Linked DNA regions of Homo sapiens: region 1 is linked to region 2. The links come from fine-mapping of genetic effects on gene expression. A gene starts in region 2. The other region holds a variant in brackets. All regions are shown on one strand. Distances are between the middles of the regions. Region 1 overlaps NFE2L1-DT (NFE2L1 divergent transcript). Region 2 holds the start of CDK5RAP3 (CDK5 regulatory subunit associated protein 3).

Region 1 (8,263 bases), 73 kb after region 2:
CCTGACAGCCACCATATCTGACTTGATAGGTCTCTCCTGTCACATTCTCTCAGTTCCTATTTCTTTCTTTCATTGCACTTTTTTCAATCTCTAAATATTATTTTTACTAATATTGCTTGTTTGAGACACGGTCTCACTCTGTTGCCCAGGCTGGAGTGCAGTGACTCGATCTGGGCTCACTGCAGCCTCAACCTCCTGGGCTCAGGCAATCCTCCCATCTCAGTCTCCCGAGTAGCTGGGACCACTGGTGCATGCAACCACTCCCAGGTAATTTTTTATTTTTTTATTTTTTTTATTTTTGTAGAAACAAGGTCTCAAGTCTGGGCTCAATGGCTCACATCTGTAATCCCAGCACTTTGGGAGGCTGAGGTGGGCAGAAGGCTTGAGCCCAGGAGTTCCAGACCAGCCTGGGCAACATGGTAAGATCTAGTCTCTACTAAAACTACAAAGAAATTAGCCAGGTAGGGTGGTGTGACCTGTAGTCCCAGCTACTCAGAAGGCTGAGGTGGGAGAATCACCCGAGTCTGGGGGTTCAAGGCTGCAGAGCCATGATCATGCCACTGTGCTCCAGCCTGGGCAATGGGAGTGAGAATCTGTTTCAAAAAAAAAAAAAAGAAGAAGAAGAAGAAGAGAAAAAGAAAGGAAGAGGAGGAGGAGGGGGAGGAGGGTGATCATGATCAAGGTCTCACTATGTTGCCCAGGCTGGTCTTGAACGCCTAGGCTCAAGTGATCCTCCCACCTCAGCCTCCCAAAGTGTTGGGATACAGGCGTGAACCACCATTCCCAGCCTTTACTAGTTTGTTTATAAGTGTTCCTTCTCCCCGCCCAGACTTTGAGCCCTGCAAGAACCAATGAATGTGACTTTTTGTTTGTTTGTTTTTTTGTTTTGAGACAGGGTCTTGCTCTATCACCCAGGCTGGAGTACAGTGGTGTGATCATAGTTCACCGCAGCCTCAAATTCCCAGTGTCGGCCGGGCACGGTGGCTCACGCCTGTAATTCCAGCTCTTTGGAAGGCCGAGACAGGCGGATCACGAGGTCAGGAGTTTGAGACCAGCCTGGCCAACATGGTGAAACCCCATCTCTACTAAAAATACAAAAAAATTAGCCGGGGGTGGTGGCAGGTGCCTGTAATCCCAGCTACTCGGGAGGCTGAGGCAGGAGAATCACTTGAACCTGGGAGGTGGAGGTTGCAGTGACCCGAGACCGCACTACAGCACTCCAGCCTGGCCAAGAGAGCGAGAACCTGCTACCCACCCACCCACCCACACACACACACACACACAAACAACTCCCAGGATCAAGCCATTCTCCTGTCTCAGTCTCCTGAGTAGGTGGGACGATACACACGTGCCACCATGCCTGGTTATTTATTATTATTTTTTTTAAAGGCAGGGTCTTGCTGTGTTGTCCAGGCAGGTCTTGAACTCCTGGGATCAAGCCCTCCTCCTGCCTCGGCCTCCCAAAGCCCTGAGATTACAGGTGTGACCCACCTCACCTGGCCAATTATGTTTGTCTTGTTCACTGTGGAATCCCTAGTGTTTCTTACAAGGCTTGGTGACAGATTTTTTTTTTTTTTTTTTGAGACGGAGTCTTGCTCCGTCACCAGGCTGGAGTGCAGTGGCGAGATCTCGGCTCACTGCAACCTCCGCCTCACGGGTTCCAGTGATTCTCCTGCCTCAGCCTCCCGAGTAGTTGGGACTACAGGTGCACACCACCACGCCCAGCTAATTTTTGTATTTTTAGTAGAGACAGGGTTTCACCATGTTGGCCAGGATGGTCTCGATCTCTTGACCTTGTGATCTGCTTGCCTCGGCCTCCCAAAGTGCTGGGATTACAGGCATGAGCCACTGCACCTGGCCGATGACAGATATTTAATAAGCATTTGTGAAGTAAATGAATAAAGGAATTCAGGATGAGGGAGATCATGTATAAATATTCACAAATACCAAATTTTAACTAATAATAATTAAAATGTACCTATCAATGATACCATATTGGCTGGGTGTGGTGGCTCATACCTGTAATCCCAGCACTTTGAGAGGCCAAGGCGGGCAGATCACTTGAGACCAGGAGTTCGAGACCAGCCTGGCCAACATGGTGAAACCCTGATTCTACTAAAAACACACAAAAATCAGCCAGGCATGGTGGCGAGTGCCTGTAGTCCCAGCTACTTGGGAGGTGAAGGCAGGAGAATCATTTGCACCCAGGAGGCAGAGGCTGTAGTGAGCCAAGATCACACCACTGCAGCCTCAGCAACAGAGCAAGACTCTATCTCCAAAAAAAAAAAAAAAAAAAAGACAACATATTTTATGTGCTGTACAAATATTTATTGAGTGCTTAGTATGTACCAGATATTTTTCTAGCCACTGGGACACAATAGTAGACAAAAGAAAAATTTTGCTCTCATGGAACTTACAATCAAGTGTTTGTGTATGTACATGCGTGCGTTTCTGTGCAAGATATAATACACAAATAAATGGGAAAAGTAGATATTATATGAGTTGGGGATAAGTGCTGCAAAGAAAAATAGAGCAGAAATGGGATGTGGAATGTGAGGGGTAAGGGACAGGCAAGCCAGAAAGCCATTTTCATAGTCCTCTGAGAAAACCTTTAACAAGGTGACATTTGAACAAAGAGCTAAAGGAAAGGAGGAAGCAGGCCATGCAGACATCTGAGGAAGCATCTACTGACCCTCCCTATATGATGACTTAGAAGGCACATCTGAACCTTTCTTGCAGGCTATCAGTTATAATAGGGAACATAATGACACTATTTGATAACAGCAGCCAGGGAAAAGACCCAGCATTTGGGCATTTTATTTCTTCGGATTCCAGATCATCAGAAGTTATGTCAATGGTCATGCTGGCTGGGTATGTTATTTCTAAAAAATACTGATTTGGTTATTTTGATGTCTTAATATTTCTGTGAGCTAGTCCATTTTTTTTTTTTTTTTGGCTCATATTTACAAGGACAGCACCAAAAAGCCTCCAGGAGCATTTCTCAGCCTCTGTTTGGCTATGGTACCCACTATGAAAGACCAGCAGCCTCCAGAAGGGACAGAGGAAGACCTGGGAAGATAGGGGACTTAGGGGGCTGGCTCCATAGGGGAGGTGGGGAAGGAGTCAGTTATACACGTTAGGGATGGGAAGGCACTGGAGAGGGGCCAAGGGGATAGGAATGAGAGAAGGCTGGGGAAGGAAGCTTAGGAACCACAAAGTTCTCATCACCCCCACATCTATCACTGTTGTTGCTTTTTCTTTTTCTTTTTTTCTTTTTTTTGAGAAGGAGTTTCACTCTTGTTGCCCAGGCTGGAGTGCAATGGGGTGATATTGGCTCACTGCAATCTCCGCCTCCCAGGTTCAGGCGATTCTCCTGTCTCAGTCTCCTGAGTAGCTGGGATTACAGGTATGCGCCACCACACCCAGCTAATTTTTTTTATTTTTAGTAGAGACAGGGTTTCACTATGTTGTTTGGCTGGTCTTGAACTCCTGACCTCAGGTGATCCGCCTGCCTTGGCCTCCCAAAGTGCTGGGATTACAGGCGTGAACCACCGCGCCTGGCCTTGTTGTTCCTCTTCTTAAAATCTCTTTACATCTTTTCTTTTTTTTGAAATGGAGTCTCACTCTGTCGCCCAGGCTGGAGTGCAGTAGCACGATCTCGGCTCACTGCAACCTCTGCCTCCCGGGTTCAAGCAATTCTCCTGCCTCAGCCTCCCAAGTAGCAGGGATTACAGGTGCGTGCCACCATGCCCGGCTAATTTTTGTATTTTTAGTAGAGACGGGGTTTCACCATGTTAGCCAGGTTGTTCTCCAACTCCTGACCTTAAGTGATCTGCCCACCTTGGCCTCCCAAAGTGCTGGGATTATAGGCGTAAGCCACCGTGCCTGGCCCATAAAATCTCTTTACATCTTAGTTTAGTGGTGAATAAGTAAATTCAGAGCCAAGTTCAACTTTTCAAGGACAAGATTCTCCCCAATGATAACCCCTCCCCAAACTCCTTCAACAGAGACCCCAGAACTTCTTTCTCTCCATGACAACCGCTTCCCCACACATCCTGAAGTGCACCTTTAATGCAGTTTCACATAAACATG[T/C]GAGCTATGTGTGTCCAGTATTGGGACAGTGTCTTCCACAGAGCATGGCCCTAAGAGGACTTTCCAGTTTAAGGCTGGCAGCACATGAGAAGCATGCACGTGCAGCAGCAGACTCGGCAGGAGAGCCTCCCCAGCTCGAGGAAGCCAAGTTGGGTTCAAAAAGAATGCAGCCTTCATGTTTCTCTGCCCTCTACTCCCTTCGGGTAGGCACAGTAGGATGGAGAGGTGGGCTGTGCACATCCCTACCCAGCTGGAACCTGTGAAGTAGTGCACTCAGAATTGGTCCCTGCCCTTTGGAGTCCCAGGAGGCAGGTGATTCAAAGCAGGTTCTCCTCTGGGCCTTGGTATAGCTTGAAGGGGAGACCATTTCATTTCCTCTGAGTCACCCTCCTGCTGCCACATTTCTGTGCTGTCTGTCCTAGGATTTCAGCATCTGTTCTTATGTGACGAGAAGAAACAGCTCCCTTGGGTACCAGCCTCTCTCTATCCCTCCTGCTTAATGTCAAGAGGGGGAGGTGTGTGTGGAATATGAGGCGTGGAAGTGTGTACTGGTGGCATCCTCTAGAGAAAACTAAAGCTTCCATGCTCTGTCTGTAGGATGGGTTTCTAGTAGACCATTCTAAGGACAGCTCTCATTTCTTCATCGCCTTTGGCTTTCTCTGAGATAAAGTTGTAGGGTGGGTGGAGAGAGGATTATTCAAGACAGGGCCTTATACTCAGCTCTTCCTCCAGGCATGAATGGCTTTATACACATGACCTGATTTTTAAGATTTATGAATATGTACATTGTTATCTCCATTTAGCTCGGGATGGCCCAACTAGTAAGAAACAGAGCCAGATTTTCGAACCCACCTATGAGTCCAAAACATCCACTCCTCCTACCTCTTAATGGCAGCTCCTTGAGTGTGACATGTCACACAGAGCTATATGAAGAACACTACCTGGTATTGTTTGAGACAACATAGCAAGACATACAGGACAGTTGAACTCAGCTTCAAAAAATGTTACACTAAGACACTAATGAACAATGAGGCATTTTCATTGTAGAGGTGAAGAAAGAACATTTTAGGGTTGAGAATGAGCACACCCTAAAAGTCAAACGGGCCGGGTGCAGTGGCTCACGCCTGTAATCCCAGCACTTTGGGAGGCTGAGGTGGGCAGATCACTTGAGGTCAGGAGTTTGAGACCAGCCTGGCCAACATGGCAAAACCCTGTCTCTACTAAAAATACAAAAATTAGCCAAGCGTGGTGGTGTGCACCTTTAATACCAGCCACTCAGGAGGCTGAAGCAGGAGAATCGCTTGAACTGGGGAGGCAGAGGTTGCAGTGAGCTGAGATGGTGTCACTGCACTCCAGCCTGGACCACAGAGCGACTCCATCTCAAAAAAAAAAGTCAGATAATCATTCTAGTCTGTGTTCCCGTATTACCACAATCTTTTGCTTTTTTTTTTTTTTTTTTTTTTTTACCCCAATGTGGATTCTTGCTCCAACCTAGTGATTCTCTACTCTGGCTGTGCATAAGAATCACCTGAAGAGCTTTTACAAAATACTGATGTCCAATTCTGCTCTGGGCAGCTGTTTTAATTGGTGTGGGGTGGGACCTGGGCATTGGTATTTCTTACGAGCTACCCACCTGGGTGATTCTAATATGCAGCCAGGATTGAGAAGCAATCTTCTAAGAGTGTGGTAGTGGTGCATAGGAAAGAGGCTGGCTTGCAGGAGAGCTTTACTTTTTGGTGGTTTAATGGTAACAAGCTTGCTGATGATGTTTACCATATAAGAGAGAGGGCCATATGTCCGGATTTGCCAGAAAACTAATTGATTTCTTTGCAAAACATGCTAACATTTAGTATTGACATGATGTATTCCTACCATCTCTCAGGACTGTAAGGAAATCTCAGGCAATCATCTATCTAATCTATTCCCCTGGATTAGATGAGGTTACAGAGTAAGAAATACTTATATGGATTAGCAAAACTTAAAGACATGTTTTTCTTTTTATTATTTTTTTTGAGACAGGGTCTTACTCTGTTGCCCAGACTGGAGTGCAATGGCGCAATCACAGCTTACTGCACCCTCAACCTCCCCAGGATCGGGTGATCTTTCCACCTCAGCCTCCCCACTAGCTAGGACTACAGGCATGAACCACCACGCCTGGCTAATTTTTGTATTTTTTTTGTAGAGATGGGTTTTCACTATGTTGGCCAGGCTGGTCTCAAACTCCTGGCTCAAGTGATCTGCCCACCTGGGCCTCTCGAAGTGCTGGGGTTACAGGTGTGAGCCACTGTGCCTGGCCTTAGAGACATTTTTAGAGGAAAGATAATGGACAACCAGAATGGCAGAAAGCCTGGGTTTCCCTTTTAGGGAAAAAGCAATTTCACTGTTCCAGAAGAAATCAGAGCCCCAGCCAGCCTGCCCTCCCACAGCCCCTTCTCTGAGGATTCCTGGCATGTGTCATCCTCCAGGGATGACTGCAGGATGGATGTGGCTGTTGGCGGCAGCAGCAGCTTTTCCTACCAGGGAAGCTGGGTCGGTAGACACTACACTGCTATTCCTGGGGTGGGGGTGGGGATTTCCGTGTATGTTTTATAGTTAGCTGGCCCCAAATCCGTGTGCTTTAGACCTAACCCTCTTCTCGGCTTCCACTGCCTTCTTCTCTCTCCTGCCCAGCCTGGAGTCGCAGGGGCAAGGCCTAGTTTTACAATGGCTGCCAGCCTTTCCCTTAGGGAGCCACATGCATGCGCTCACTTTTTCCAGTGGTCTTCTCAGTCTGATTTAATGGATATACCGGGACTGATGACACATCAGCATGGGATCCTTCTTTTGCTTCTTGGGTAACTGTCCTATTAACAGCTGTCCCAGGCAAAGGGAGGGGGAGAGTGTTGGGGGAAAGGAGGGGGTGGCTTCCTGGGTGAAGAAGGACACACCCTGGGTTTTACAAGGTTAATCAGCAGGTTCTGGGAAAGCTTGCACCTGCTCAGACTTGATCTGGAACTCTAGACAGAATGGAAGACAGTCTTTCTGTCTCCACTCCCTTCCATGGAGCATCAAATATCCTGGGCGCCCACACCCTGCCAGGCCTAGGCCTGCTGTTGCGACTGAGTTTGTCTCTACACCTTTACTCTCTTCGGCCCTTGCAACTCTTTCCCTTTTTCTGCCCACCTTTGTGAAATGGCTAAGCAGGAAACTCCACAGATAAACGATTGTCCAGTTTTAGTTTGAACTGTTAGGACTGAAAATTGTTCTGTATTTTTCTGTCAAAAAAAGACCAACTTTAGTATGCTCTTTTCACCTTCTCAAAATTGTCTTGTAGTTAAACACTGTAGTTGAGCCTTTATATCTCTCAATTTTATGTTTTGTTTTGTTGAGGAAGCATCTCACTGTTGCCCAGACTGGCACCATCATAGCTCACTGCAGCCTCAATCTCCCAGCTCAAGAAATCCTCCCACCTCAGCCTCCTGAGTAGTTGGGACTATAGATGTGTGGCACCAAGCCCAGCTTGTTTTTTTGTAGCGACGGGGGTCTCACTATGCTGCCCAGGCTGGTCAAGCAATCCTCCCGCCTCGGCCTCCCAAGGTGCTACTGTGAGCCACTGCGCCGGGCCCAGTTCTATGTTTAAAATACTTCCTTCTCAACCTTATTTATTTTTAGAGTTGATGGCCACACCTAAATATTCCTCCTTTCTTATACAATACCAGTCTTTATCTTCATTGTCTCACTACTTCGGGGACTGAATGGTCTCCTATTTTATTGTTAACATGCCATATCCTTCAAAACTGTACATCCTCCAAGGTGTGGTTAATTTCTGCTTTTAACAGGAAAATCAGAGGCCTGCCTGCTTGAGTCCCCCTTCAAGTACTCAGTATTTGAGTGTCTACTAAGTTATAACAGTTAACGCACAAAATTCTAGTCCTCATGTTGTTTATACTCAGGTATTTATTGGGAGACACGCGTCAGTAGTCCCTGATAAATGGAAAGATCGCTTGAGTCCAGGAGTTCCAGTCCAGCCTAGAATAGGTAAAACATGCTCTCTGAATTAGTCTTTGAAACTGGTAAACTAGCTCAGAAGTTTTTTTAAGAATTCCATGAGTGGTTTGCTGGTGTACGTTTATTATATGCAGTGAAAGTACTTAATCTGCAAACCACCCCAAATTAAGCCCCTAACTCGCAA
Region 2 (11,688 bases):
ATTACAGGTGTGAGCTACCATGCCCAGCCAAAATGACCATTTTCTTCAATGTAGAAAAATTTCTGCATCTCATCATATGGGAGTTGTCTTTCTAGTAACCACTGACTTAAAAAAAAATCATTGCATTTATGGATCCCTGGCACATTTGCATAATTCTATTTTATTTATTTATTTATTTTTTTACAGACAGGGTCTGTCTCCGTCACCCAGGCTGGAATACAGTTGGCACAGTCATAGCTCACTACAGCCTCAAACTCCTTGGCTCAAGCGATCTTCCCACCTTTGCATATTTCTACAGCTTTCCAGGGACCTGCTTGCCCATTGATTGGGAATCCTAACCTATGGAATTAAATTTCAACCCTTTATAATGGACCTGAAAGTTCTTCAAGATCTCCCTTTGCCGGTCTCTTCAACCTAATTTCTCTCCACTCTCCCCATAAACATCCATGCTCCCATAATAAACTTCTTCCTTCTGGAACAGCCATTCTCTCACCTCTAGGCTTTGTCCTTGCTTTTCCTTTTTCCCAGAATGACACCTGTCACCTCCCTTCCTCTTTTCTCTCCTCTCCTTTCTATTACAATTCATGCCATCTTGCAAGACTCAGCTCAAGTGTTACTTCTCCTAAGAGCCTGCTCTGGTGGTGTTCTGTCCTTCTCCTTTGCCTTTTCCCATGCTGAGTTGGATACTCCGTCTCCTTCTTTCTGTTCCCTTAGCACTCTGAGCATCTCTGAGTGGACCTCTTATTAGCTTTTTTATTTTTTTTGAGACAGTCTTGCTCTGTTGCCCAGGCTGGAGTGCAGTGGCATGACCTCAGCTCACTGCAACCTCTGCCTCCTGGGTTCAAGTGATTCTTGTGCCTCAGCCTCCTAAGTAGCTGGGACTACAGGCAGGCACCACCACACCCAGTTAATTTTCTGTGTTTTTGTATTTTTAGTAGAGACGGGATTTTGCCATGTTGGCCAGGCTGGTCTTGAACTCTTGACCTCAGGTGATCTGCCTGCCTCGGCCTCCCAAAGCGCTGGGATTACAGGTACCTCTTATTTGCTTTGCATAGATTTTTTGAGCACCTTCTATGCATGAGCACAGTACTCTCACACTCTGTGACGACACACTCTGGAGATGTCGTCATGGGATATGGAAGGTGGTGGGCCCCTCACTCAACATACTTTTACTTCCTTTGAGGCCTAGGACTGTGTCTTTGTGATAAGGTGCTCAGGGTGCATAAAGTTGAACTCCAATGGAAAAGAGGTGAATGGATGGGTGGTTTGGTAGTATCCTTGGTTTTCCTTTTCTTAGCAGATTAGATTCCCACCGCCTTCCATGATAAGCATGGTGAAATAATGAAATACAGTGGCATCCTTAGAAGATGACAAACAGGACCCATTTCATGAAGCCACCCAGGGAGTTCTTTTTCCCCAGAAGACTAACAAAGGTGGAGGGATGAGGTGGCCAGGAGGGCATGAGTTGCCAGAGTTAAGGGTAAAATGAGTGGCCCCAGAGCATGACCCAGGTGACTGGCCCCACATAGACTTTCACTGGTCTGTACCAAACTCGTGAAGCTGACCACCCCTAATTTCTTCTCCCTGATTTCCTCCCTTCACTCCCAAGAGGCTCAGAGGATGTTGACTCCAAGTCCTGAGCTGTAGAGGAAAGGATGAGAAAAGGATCTGGGGACCTTGAACCTCTTGTCCCAAGACAAAGCAATCATGGTCCCCACTTATCACAACTACCACCAACATCAAATGCCTTCCTGCATATGGCTTTCCTTCATTACAAGCATCCATTAAGCTCCTGACACTCAATGTCAAGAGTCACACCGGATGCTGGGGTTATAGAGATGAACAAGTCTGCTTTGGCTTCCCAGCCCACAGGTACTCGCAGACTAGGTGGGGAGACAGACTGAAAAACGCAACATGCCGGGCACGGTGGCTCACGCCTGTAATCCCAGCACTTTGGGAGGCCAAGGTGGGCAGATCACGAGGTCAGGAGTTCAAGACCACCCTGGCCAACATGGTGAAACCCCATCTCTACTGAAAATACAAAAATTAGCCAGGCATGGTGGCACGTGCCTGTAATCCCAGTTATTTGGGAGGCTGAGGTAGGAGAATCGCTTGAACCCAAGAGGAGGAGGTTGCAGTGGGCTGAGATCACACCACTGCACTCCAGCCTGGGTGACAGAGCGAGATTCTGTCTCAAAAAAAAAAAAGGAAAGAAAGAAAGAAAGAAAAAAGCAACACAGTGGTTACACTCCGGGCAGCAAGAGGCCCAAGGCTGCTATGTTTCCAGAGCTTCCAGCCTAGCAGGCAGATACACCACACACACACAGGCACACACACCACACCCCATAGTCAGTGTGGCTGTGAGCAAACACACAGACCATAAAGTAATAAAAATATAGCAGATAAAATAAATGAGTTATTTGAATGTTGAAAGTAAGCCTTCTTTTATGGATATTGCAGGAGGATAAGTAATGGGCTCCCTTTCCCAGAATGGGGTGTGGTAAGAATGAACTTTGGAAAGGGGCAGGGCCTGCAGGGGTGGGAGTTCTGAGTGTCTGGCACAACAACTGGGGAGAAAATAGGAATCAGGCCCAAGGGAGGAAGAGACCTGAAGCTGTTGTGGCTGAGCCAAAGGGGTAGGCAGGGGTGCAGGAGAAGCAAAGGCACATCACACAGAGAAGAAGAATGCAGGCTGGGTAGCCCAACAGGCCTGGGTTTGAATCCCAGCCTCATCAACTACCCACTGTATGATTTTCCTTTTTTTTTTTTTTTTGAGTCTTTCTCTGTTTCCCAGGCTGGAGCGCAGTAGCACAATCTTGGCTCATTGCAACCTCTGCCTCCCAGGTTCAAGGGATTCTTCTGCCTCAGCCTCCCGAGTAGCTGGGATTACAGGCATGTGCCACCACGCCCAGCTAATTTTGTATTTTTAGTAGTTGGGGTTTCACCTTGTTGGCCAGGCTGGTCTCAAACTTCTGACCTCAGGTGATCCACCCGCCTCGGCCTCCCAAAGTGTTGAGTTCCATGTGTGAGCCACCGCGCCTGGCCCACTGTATGATCTGTATGATTTTCTTTTCTTTTCTTTTTTTTTGAGACGGAGTCTTTCTCTGTCACCCAGGCTGGAGTGCAGTGGCGCGATCTCGGCTCACTGCAACCTCCGCCTCCTGGGTTCAAGTGATTGTCCTGCCTCAGCCTCCTGAGTAGCTGGGACTACAGGCACGTGCCACCACACCCAGCTAATTTTTTGTGTTTTTAGTAGAGACGGGGTTTCACCGTGTTAGCCAGGATGGTCTCGATCTCTTGACCTTGTGATCCACCCACCTTGGCCTTCTAAAGTGTTGGGATTACAGACGTGAGCCACCGCACCTGGCCCACTGGATGATTTTCAACATGTTACGTAATTAATCTTTGGCTTCCTTGCCTTTAAAATCTGGTTAATGATGGTACCCACATTATAAGGTTGTTAGAAGAATCACATTAGATAAGGCTTGTAAAACATTTAGATCTACACTGGCACGTGGGCATGTTTATCACGTAATAAGCAAGCTAACAACAACAATAATGGATGGCAAGGTAGGCTGCCTACACGGTGCCTCGGGGCTCTGTGCTTCCTTGTCCAAAGCTGGTGCAGCCCTGGTATATCCTCCTCACCTCTCTACATGTGCTGCCCCTCTCCCAGGGTCCCATCTGCTAAATCAGCAGAGAACTGAGAGATTCCTGGTCAGAAACCTACCATACCTCTCTCTGCCTCCTTCTAGCTGCTGGGAGCCCCGATGACTAAAGTCTCCTGAAGGAGATAGAGTCGATGCCCTGGATGCCAGACCAATTATGTGCTTATCTACCCACAGACCCTGAAGTTCCCTGTGGCCTTGGAAAAGTGCAGAAACCCGCCAAAGGCCCATGCTCCTACACTCTTTGGGAACACAGAAGCATGTGCCTTTGGCAGGCTCTCCCCCAGAGCCTCTGCAGTCAGCAGAGGCAGGTTCTCTCCCAGAGCCTCTGGCTTTGGGACAGCCTCCCTGGAGTCAGTAGCTGGGCAGAACTGTTCTCAAACATCCTTCTGCTCCACGTGAGTCACCTTGGGGAGCTGTGGGTGGGGCTGAAGTGCTGGTGGTCCCTGCTTCCATCAACTCACCTGGGCTGGGTCTTCCAGACCCACCCTGTCCTGTTCTGCCCAGCCTGTTGGTTCAAGGAAGAGAGATAGATACACCTTGAGGGCAGGGCAGTGCCTTGCTCTTGAGATGTCCCAGACAGCCCCGAGCACATAGTTGGGGCCCAGTTAAGTGTGTGTTTAATCATGGAGGAGCCTGAGCAATTCCTACAGTCTGAGTCAGGCTGACTCAGATGGGAGCCAAATTCCCATGAAAGATCCCTGAAAAGGCCCTTAATTCAGCTCTATGAGCCATTTTCAGAGCAGTTTTTCAATCCGTTCTATAATAATAATGATCATATATGACATATATATATATTTTGAGATGGAGTCTCACTCTGTTGCCCAGGCTGGAGTGCAGTGGCGCAATCTGGGCTCATTGCAACCTCCGCCTCCCAAGTTCAGGTGATTCTTCCGCCGCAGCCTCCCGAGTAGCTGAGTAGCTGGGACTGCAGGCATGCACCACCACGCCGGGATGGTTTTTGTTTTTGTTTGTTTGTTTGTTTTTTGTTTTGTTTTGTTTTTGAGATGGAGTCTCACTCTGTCGCCCAGGCTGGAGTGCGGTGGCGCAATATCGGCTCACTGCAACCTCCGCCTCCCGGGTTCAAGCAGTTCTCCTGCCTCAGCTTCCTGAGTAGCTGGGATTACAGGCGTACGCCACCACGCCCAGCTAATTTTTGTATTTTTAGTAGAGACAGGGTTTCACCATGTTGATCAGGCTGGTCTCAAACTCCTGACCTCGTGATCCACCCGCCTCAGCATCCCAAAGTGCCGAGATTACAGGCGTGAGCCACCGTGCCCAGCGTGTTTTTTGTTTTTTTCAGAGATGGGATTTCACCATGTTGATCAGGCTGGTCTCGAATTCCTGACCTTAGGTGATCCGCCTGTCTCAGCCTCCCAAAAGTGCTGGGATTACAGGCGTGAGCCACCGCGCCTGGCCCATATATGATATTTCATATAGGGAGAGTTTACAAAGCATGAGAAATACAGCCACAGTATGTTGTAAACTGTCATGAGTTACTAGTGTGTTTATTTAAGCCTCTAAACAGAAATACCCTGAGATAGGATAGCTGTTATCTCCATGTGGGGAAACTGTGGCTATCAGATAGGTTATAGAAATGGTCCAAGACCTCACTGGGCAGAATCTAGGTCTTCCTGCTGCTGTATCACACTATGCATTTCAATCAAAAATTTACTAAGCCTCAAGTGTTGTGCTGTGGTGAACAGGAGCTGGGGAAGGAATATTTAGAAATGGCATACCCAGGGCCGGGCGCGGTGGCTCACGCCTGTAATCCCAGCACTTTAGGAGGCTGAAGCGGGAGAATCACGAGGTCAGGAAATCGAGACCATCCTGGCTAACACGGTGAGACCTCGTCTCTACTAAAAATACAAAAAAATTAGCCGGGCGTGGTGGCGGGCGCCTGTAGTCCCAGCTACTGGGGAGGCTGAGGCAGGAGAATGGCGTGAACCCAGGAGGCAGAGCTTGCAGTGAGCCGAGATCGTGTCACTGCACTCCAGCCCGGGCGACAGAGCGTGACTCCGTCTCAAAAAAAAAAAAAAAAAAAAAAAAAAAAGAAAAGGCATACCCAGCGCTGTGAGATCCTGGGGGATCTGGCCTCAGCCTACCCTCCCTCCTTACTCTACCCACTTCTTGGCCAATCTCAGACTCTCCCTTAGCTTCAGCCACCACTCGGACCACAGATTAGCCAGCTTGTGACTCTCCAAGCTGTATCTCCAGCCCCGACAACTCCCTCGAACTCCAAAATTATAGACCCAAGTGCCTTCTGCACACTTTCCATCTGGGGGTCTCCCAGCATTGCCAGACTAGGTTCAAAGCTAGACCCCCTCCTCCCCAACACCTGCTCAGCATCCTGCATCCCTGTCTCAGGTGGTGGTTCCCACCTAATCACCTAGGTGTCATCCTTAGTGTCTCTCTCCTCCACCCAAACAGCCAATCAATTGCCAAGTCCTATACATTTTCCTCCTAAATATTCCTCAGATCCAGCCCTTCCCCTTCCTCCTCATATCTTGTGTCCCAGCTCAGGCTATAATCCCTCGATAACAACCTCCTTCCAGCCTCCTTGTCCCCAGTCTTATCTCCCATGCATCCATCATCCCAGCAGCCTATCTGTACAGGTTCCTCCCTGCCTCAAACCCCTTCTGTGATTCCTCTGTCTGAAGGGATGAAGTCCAAGTTCCTTAATAAGTCTCCCTTTGATATGGCCTTTCCACCCTTACAGCCTCTCCTCTAGCCACTCGCTGCCTCAAACCATCTACGGTATAGAGGTTGGCCTGCCCGCGGAGCCGACTTCATCTTGAAATTCTTCATCATTTTGTAACAAGCAGCTGTGCATTTCCATTTTGCACTGGACCTCACAAATTACGTTGCCCGTCCTGCCTGCCTGTTGTTGCTTGCACCCCTCTTGCAGTTTGTGGCCACCTAAGCTTTGTCTGTGTAGTCTCCTCCACCTAAAACTCCTCTTCCCACATCACCCAGCTATCTTCAGCTCTTCGTTTAGACTCAATGTAGGTGTTCTCTTTGGGACGTCTCACCGACTCTCTTCCTTCCCCTTCCCTGCCCTAATCGCCCAACACGTTGCAGGTGCTCAACCATGTCTATTAGAGAAACTGAATGAGGAGGCAAAGCATGACAAGTGCCACAAGAGACCTGCACACTGCTCTGGATGGTAAAGCGACGCAAGGAGGGAAGAAGGTATTTGCAACGGCCTCCCAGATCGGCGCTAGGACCCCGCCAGCAGACGTCTCAATCTGCGTGGAGAAGACCCAGTGCCCGCCAGGGGAAGCGGCTGCCAGGCTGGGCTCTCGAGCGCCGCCTGTCGCAATCCCACGGCCGCTGCAGCGCACCCCCTCCCGTCCCCTGCCCTGAGCCCGCCTCGCGTCTCCAATTGGCTGTCTCCATTCTCCCGCCCCTCCCGAGCTCAGCCATTCGGAGCCTGGGGTGGGCGGGGCTTGAGGCCTGAGTGGAGCGTAAACCCTGATTGGCTGTACGGAAGGCGGCGACGTGGCCGAAGGATGCCCGTTTGTGTCTAAACGGAGGCTCGGCCACAACGCCACTGGATTGGTGGTAGGGCGGGGCGGGCCACAGTCTCCAGCCTGAAGCGGAAGTGGAGGAAAGATGGAGGTGTGGGGACAGGAGCTGGGTGTGCTGGGGACTGGCCGCGGACCCCTAACCTGTGTCTCCGGTCTCCCTCCGGAAGCGGCTCAACCCAGCCCATCGCTCTGGCCCCGTTCTGGCCCTGCAGGGTGGTGGTTGGGACGTTGAAATGAGCGCGCGAGTGGTACGTCCTCTCTCCGCGCTCACGCCCCCCTCCTCACCGTGTTTCCCGCCAGGACCATCAGCACGTGCCCATCGACATCCAGACCAGCAAGCTGCTCGGTAGGAGGGGGCGCCACCGCGCAGCTGGCTGTCGGGGGGAGGCCTGTGCGTTGCCCCCTGTGTCCAATAGCCGGGAGCTCTGACCCCTGAAAGCCTGAGTCGAGATGCTGACCACTGGCCTCGTTCTATGCCCCATCTGTGGCCAGACCTGCTTCCCTGATAGCAGCGGGAACGAACCATATGTACAGTCTGTTTGACCTGCGTTTTCTCCTTTAATAACATATGTTATCGTATCATTCAGGGACAGGATAAATGACTCGCTTTAAAAACAGTCAACCACTGCCGGGCGCGGTGGCTCATGCCTGTAATCCCAGCACTTTGGGAGGCCGAGGTGGGCGAATCACCTGAGGTCAGGAGTTCGAGACCAGCCTGACCAACATGGAGAAACCTTGTCTCCATGTCTCCATGACTAAAAATACAAAAAAATAAAAATAAAAAGTAGCCGGGCATGGGAGCACATGCCTGTAATCCCAGCTACTCGGGAGGCTGAGGTGGGAGAATTGCTTGAACCCCGGAGGCAGAGGTTGCGGTGAGCAGAGATCTCACTATTGCACTCCAGCCTGGGCAACGAGAGCGAAACTCCATCTCAAAAAGAAGACAAAAAACAGTCAACCACTAAGTGGCACATCTGAATTGGAACTTAAGTCTGTCTGACCCACTGTCCATGCCTTTTGCATTATGCCAGGAAAAAAAAAAAAAACCTCATTTAAAAAGCTTCCACCTCCCCCTTGATTTTAGGAGGAAGAGGGACCTAAGACCCAGTTGCAAATGAAAACCTTTTAGTGTCCAGGCCATCTCCAGGTTGTCTGTATGGGGCTTACATACTTCCTCCCCAGTTCATAGTCAGGGAAGGCCTCTTCATCTGATCACACAGCTCCTGGCATTTTAAAATGCTTATTGGATTCATGGATTTGATGCCAATCTTGTCCTTAAGATGGTGTCTGTTTGACTACCCCAGTCCGTTGCTTCTAGTTCTGTGACATCAACAGAATTTTTCTTTCTGAAAACTTTACAGGAATATAGCAGAGAGAGTATAACTGATACTAGTGTGGGACCCCAGCGTTTGACCGGTTGGCAGAGTTCAAGTTCTGAATTCACCACTCTGTAGTGCCATTTAGTCAGTCCTGCTTGGTGGTCACGGGGGAAGCTTCTTTAGCCTCCCTTCAGATTTGTACTGGCCCTTCAGCCCATGTGCAGTCTTGGTGTGTGAGCTTGTTCTTGGTCATGAAAAGGACCAATAAAATGACCACCATTCATTGAGGGTTTTTTTTTGTACCAGGTGCTGTTTTAGGCACTTGACATGATAAAAATGATCACTGTCATTTTTTGAGTCCTTGCCGTGTCTCAGGCACACTGTTCAGTGTTTTACCTGCATTCCCTTTTCTAGTCAGTGTCTTATTATTCCCCATTTTACATGTGGGAAAACTGAGGCACAGAATAGTAGACTTGCTCAAGAAACTTGATAACGAGAACCCAGGACCATCTGACCACAAAGCTCAGCTCTTAGCTCTCACTGAGGAAATATGCATGGCTCTGAAGCCACAAATCTGGGCCCAGACTTTGAGAGGTCAGTCCCATTGGTATTCACATGTACAGGGTGGTACTTCACTGTTCACAACAGAGTCATGTTATCTAGTCCTTAGGGCGCTGTAGGTATTAGGGGCTTTGCAGCTGTTCATTCATCCAGTACTTGGCATAACCATCTTGTATTTTCCATTGTCATGGTTAACCCCAGCCCTGAGGAAATGGAAGTTGAGCAGCATCCTCTTGTCAGGAAGAAAGATATAATTACCCATAGAAGCAAAAATATTATGGGGAATTGAGAATGGTCAAAAGTGGCACTTTCAGGACCAATTTAAACTTTTTGTTATCCCTGTGTTGAGGCAATTGCTCTATAAAAATCACACTGCTAATGAAGTCAGATTGTCAGAGCCTGGTTTAGCCCCAGGCATCTCTTTGGGCTTGTCTTTATTCCCATCTTCCCATGACCCCCATACTTTAACCAATGTAAAGAAAACTTTTAGACTAATTTCAGTGTATTTCACTCGAATTAGTGATGGAATTTTGGTGATGTGAATGGGAATGCTCTAATTTGGGTGCTTCTCATGTAGATTGGCTGGTGGACAGAAGGCACTGCAGCCTGAAATGGCAGAGTCTGGTGCTGACGATCCGCGAGAAGATCAATGCTGCCATCCAGGACATGCCAGAGAGCGAAGAGATCGCCCAGCTGCTGTCTGGGTCCTGTGAGTGCTTAGGGGCTGTCACTGGAGTCCCCTCTTTGCTGAGGTAGTATGTATCAGCTGAGCTACTCTCTTGTTATTTAGCCACCAGGGCTGGCCTTTAGAGAGGGAGCGATTTTTATTTGAGGTATAGATGCTGGCTTCTTCCACTATGAAATGATTTAGGGAAAAGCTACACACTAAAGTTACTGGCAGTATATTATACATGAATCAGCCACCTGCAGTGCCCAGAGTAGGTGAAGAAGATACTTTAGTTCTCGAAATCCCGTCTCTTGCTTTCTAGACATTCACTACTTTCACTGCCTAAGAATCCTGGACCTTCTCAAAGGCACAGAGGCCTCCACGAAGAATATTTTTGGCCGATACTCTTCACAGCGGATGAAGGCAAGTGTGGGCCAAGGGCCGGTAGTATGTGGTTGGGGACATCCAATCCGAGGAGTCATAGCCTCTGTGGTCTCTCTGAGGCTCCAGTGGGGATGCCTACATAGAATATTTCCTGAACTTTCACTCTGTCTCTATAGTTTACTCCAAAAGTGGATCCTATCCCTGAGTTTAATTTTCAAACCCACTGCTTTAGGGATTGCCTGCACTCTTAAAGTGGGTGGTCCAGCCAGCAGAGTTGAAAGAAGGACAAGGAGTTTGTGTTTGATGTGATGTAAAGGCTGGGAGAACTTACCCTGTTTAGGGATTGAGCTGGGATGTGGCTGTCGAGTGCTTTTCTGGCTTAACATTGTTTTTCTGTTCTTACTCAGGATTGGCAGGAGATTATAGCTCTGTATGAGAAGGACAACACCTACTTAGGTAAAGTGGCCCGGCCTGGGAGCCCTGGTATCCATGGGGAAGCCCACTCTCAGAGTTCTGAGATACCAGGCTTATAGGAGGCACAGTCTGTGAGTGGGAAGAGACTGGAGTGTAGATGTTGCCCATTTGTAGGTGGTAAAATCAATTGTTTTTGATGGAATTGATTTTCCCTGAGTGGAGTGCTGGGGGAAGGAGGAGGTCCAGGCCGGTAGTGGCCATTCGCCGTGCCTCAGCGAGCAGGTGTGTGTGGGTCCTCCACCACTCACCTCTTGGTTAGCGGGAGTGTGCTGCCCCCACCCCCACCCCCGCACCCCCATTCTACACAAGGCAGAAGAGGCACGGGTTTTTCTGGGAGCGAATATCAAGTGCCTGAGAGCAACTACAGGACTAACTGTGTTTGGGTTGGGTGTAGTATAAATAATAATAATGGCTAATATTTCCTGAGCATCTACTAAATGCAAGGAATTGTGCTTGGTGTGTCATGTGGATTCTCTCTTGCATCTTCATGATAAATGTTATTGTCGCTGTTTTACCGATGAGGGTTGGATTAGAGGGGTTAAACAACTTGTCTTAGGCTCCACAGCTGGGAACAAGTGGGGCTGGGAAGCTGACTTCGTGCTCTTCACCACCACAAAGGATGTGTGTGCATCCTGGGGCATGCCTGCCTCATGTGGGGGTGTCCTGGGCTGAATTTCCTGGGCACTTCTCAGTGGAACTCTCTAGCCTCCTGGTTCGGAATGTCAACTATGAGATCCCCTCACTGAAGAAGCAGATTGCCAAGTGCCAGCAGCTGCAGCAAGAATACAGCCGCAAGGAGGAGGAGTGCCAGGCAGGGGCTGCCGAGATGCGGGAGCAGTTCTACCACTCCTGCAAGCAGTATGGCATCACGGTGAGCGGCGGCAGCCTCTTCGCAGCCAGAGGACACCTGGGCCCCTGCTTGTCTTCCTCTGACCCCGTCTGACCCCTCAGCCTGGTTGCACCCCCTTTGGGCCAGTGTCTTACTTTTCTTCGGTCTTTGGATGTTTTCTTCAATCTGTTGGACTCCACCTCTTCTCCCCTCTCTAGGGCGAAAATGTCCGAGGAGAACTGCTGGCCCTGGTGAA

Evidence for each region. PIP is the estimated chance that this variant, and not a neighbour inherited with it, causes the effect.
Region 1: its variant is fine-mapped to the expression of CDK5RAP3 in whole blood (INTERVAL, PIP above 0.99).

The regions. Positions count from the first base shown.
Region 1 is chr17:48,038,871-48,047,133 of GRCh38, forward strand. It overlaps NFE2L1-DT (NFE2L1 divergent transcript), which reads right to left. Exons shown (of 2, transcript NR_170231.1): 2 at 8,011-8,100. It also overlaps a transcript of COPZ2 not described here. Among named protein-coding and RNA genes, the nearest start is that of NFE2L1-DT, 5.1 kb to the right of the region's middle. RefSeq lists enhancers at 44-93, 8,261-8,263. The variant T/C (reference allele first, on the strand shown) is at 4,093.
Region 2 is chr17:47,963,864-47,975,551 of GRCh38, forward strand. It overlaps CDK5RAP3 (CDK5 regulatory subunit associated protein 3), which reads left to right and starts at 7,250. Exons shown (of 14, transcript NM_176096.3): 1 at 7,250-7,289; 2 at 7,499-7,544; 3 at 9,656-9,787; 4 at 10,068-10,168; 5 at 10,537-10,585; 6 at 11,296-11,474; 7 at 11,651-11,688. The coding sequence starts at 7,284. RefSeq lists a silencer at 6,901-7,190 and enhancers at 7,612-8,239, 11,536-11,688.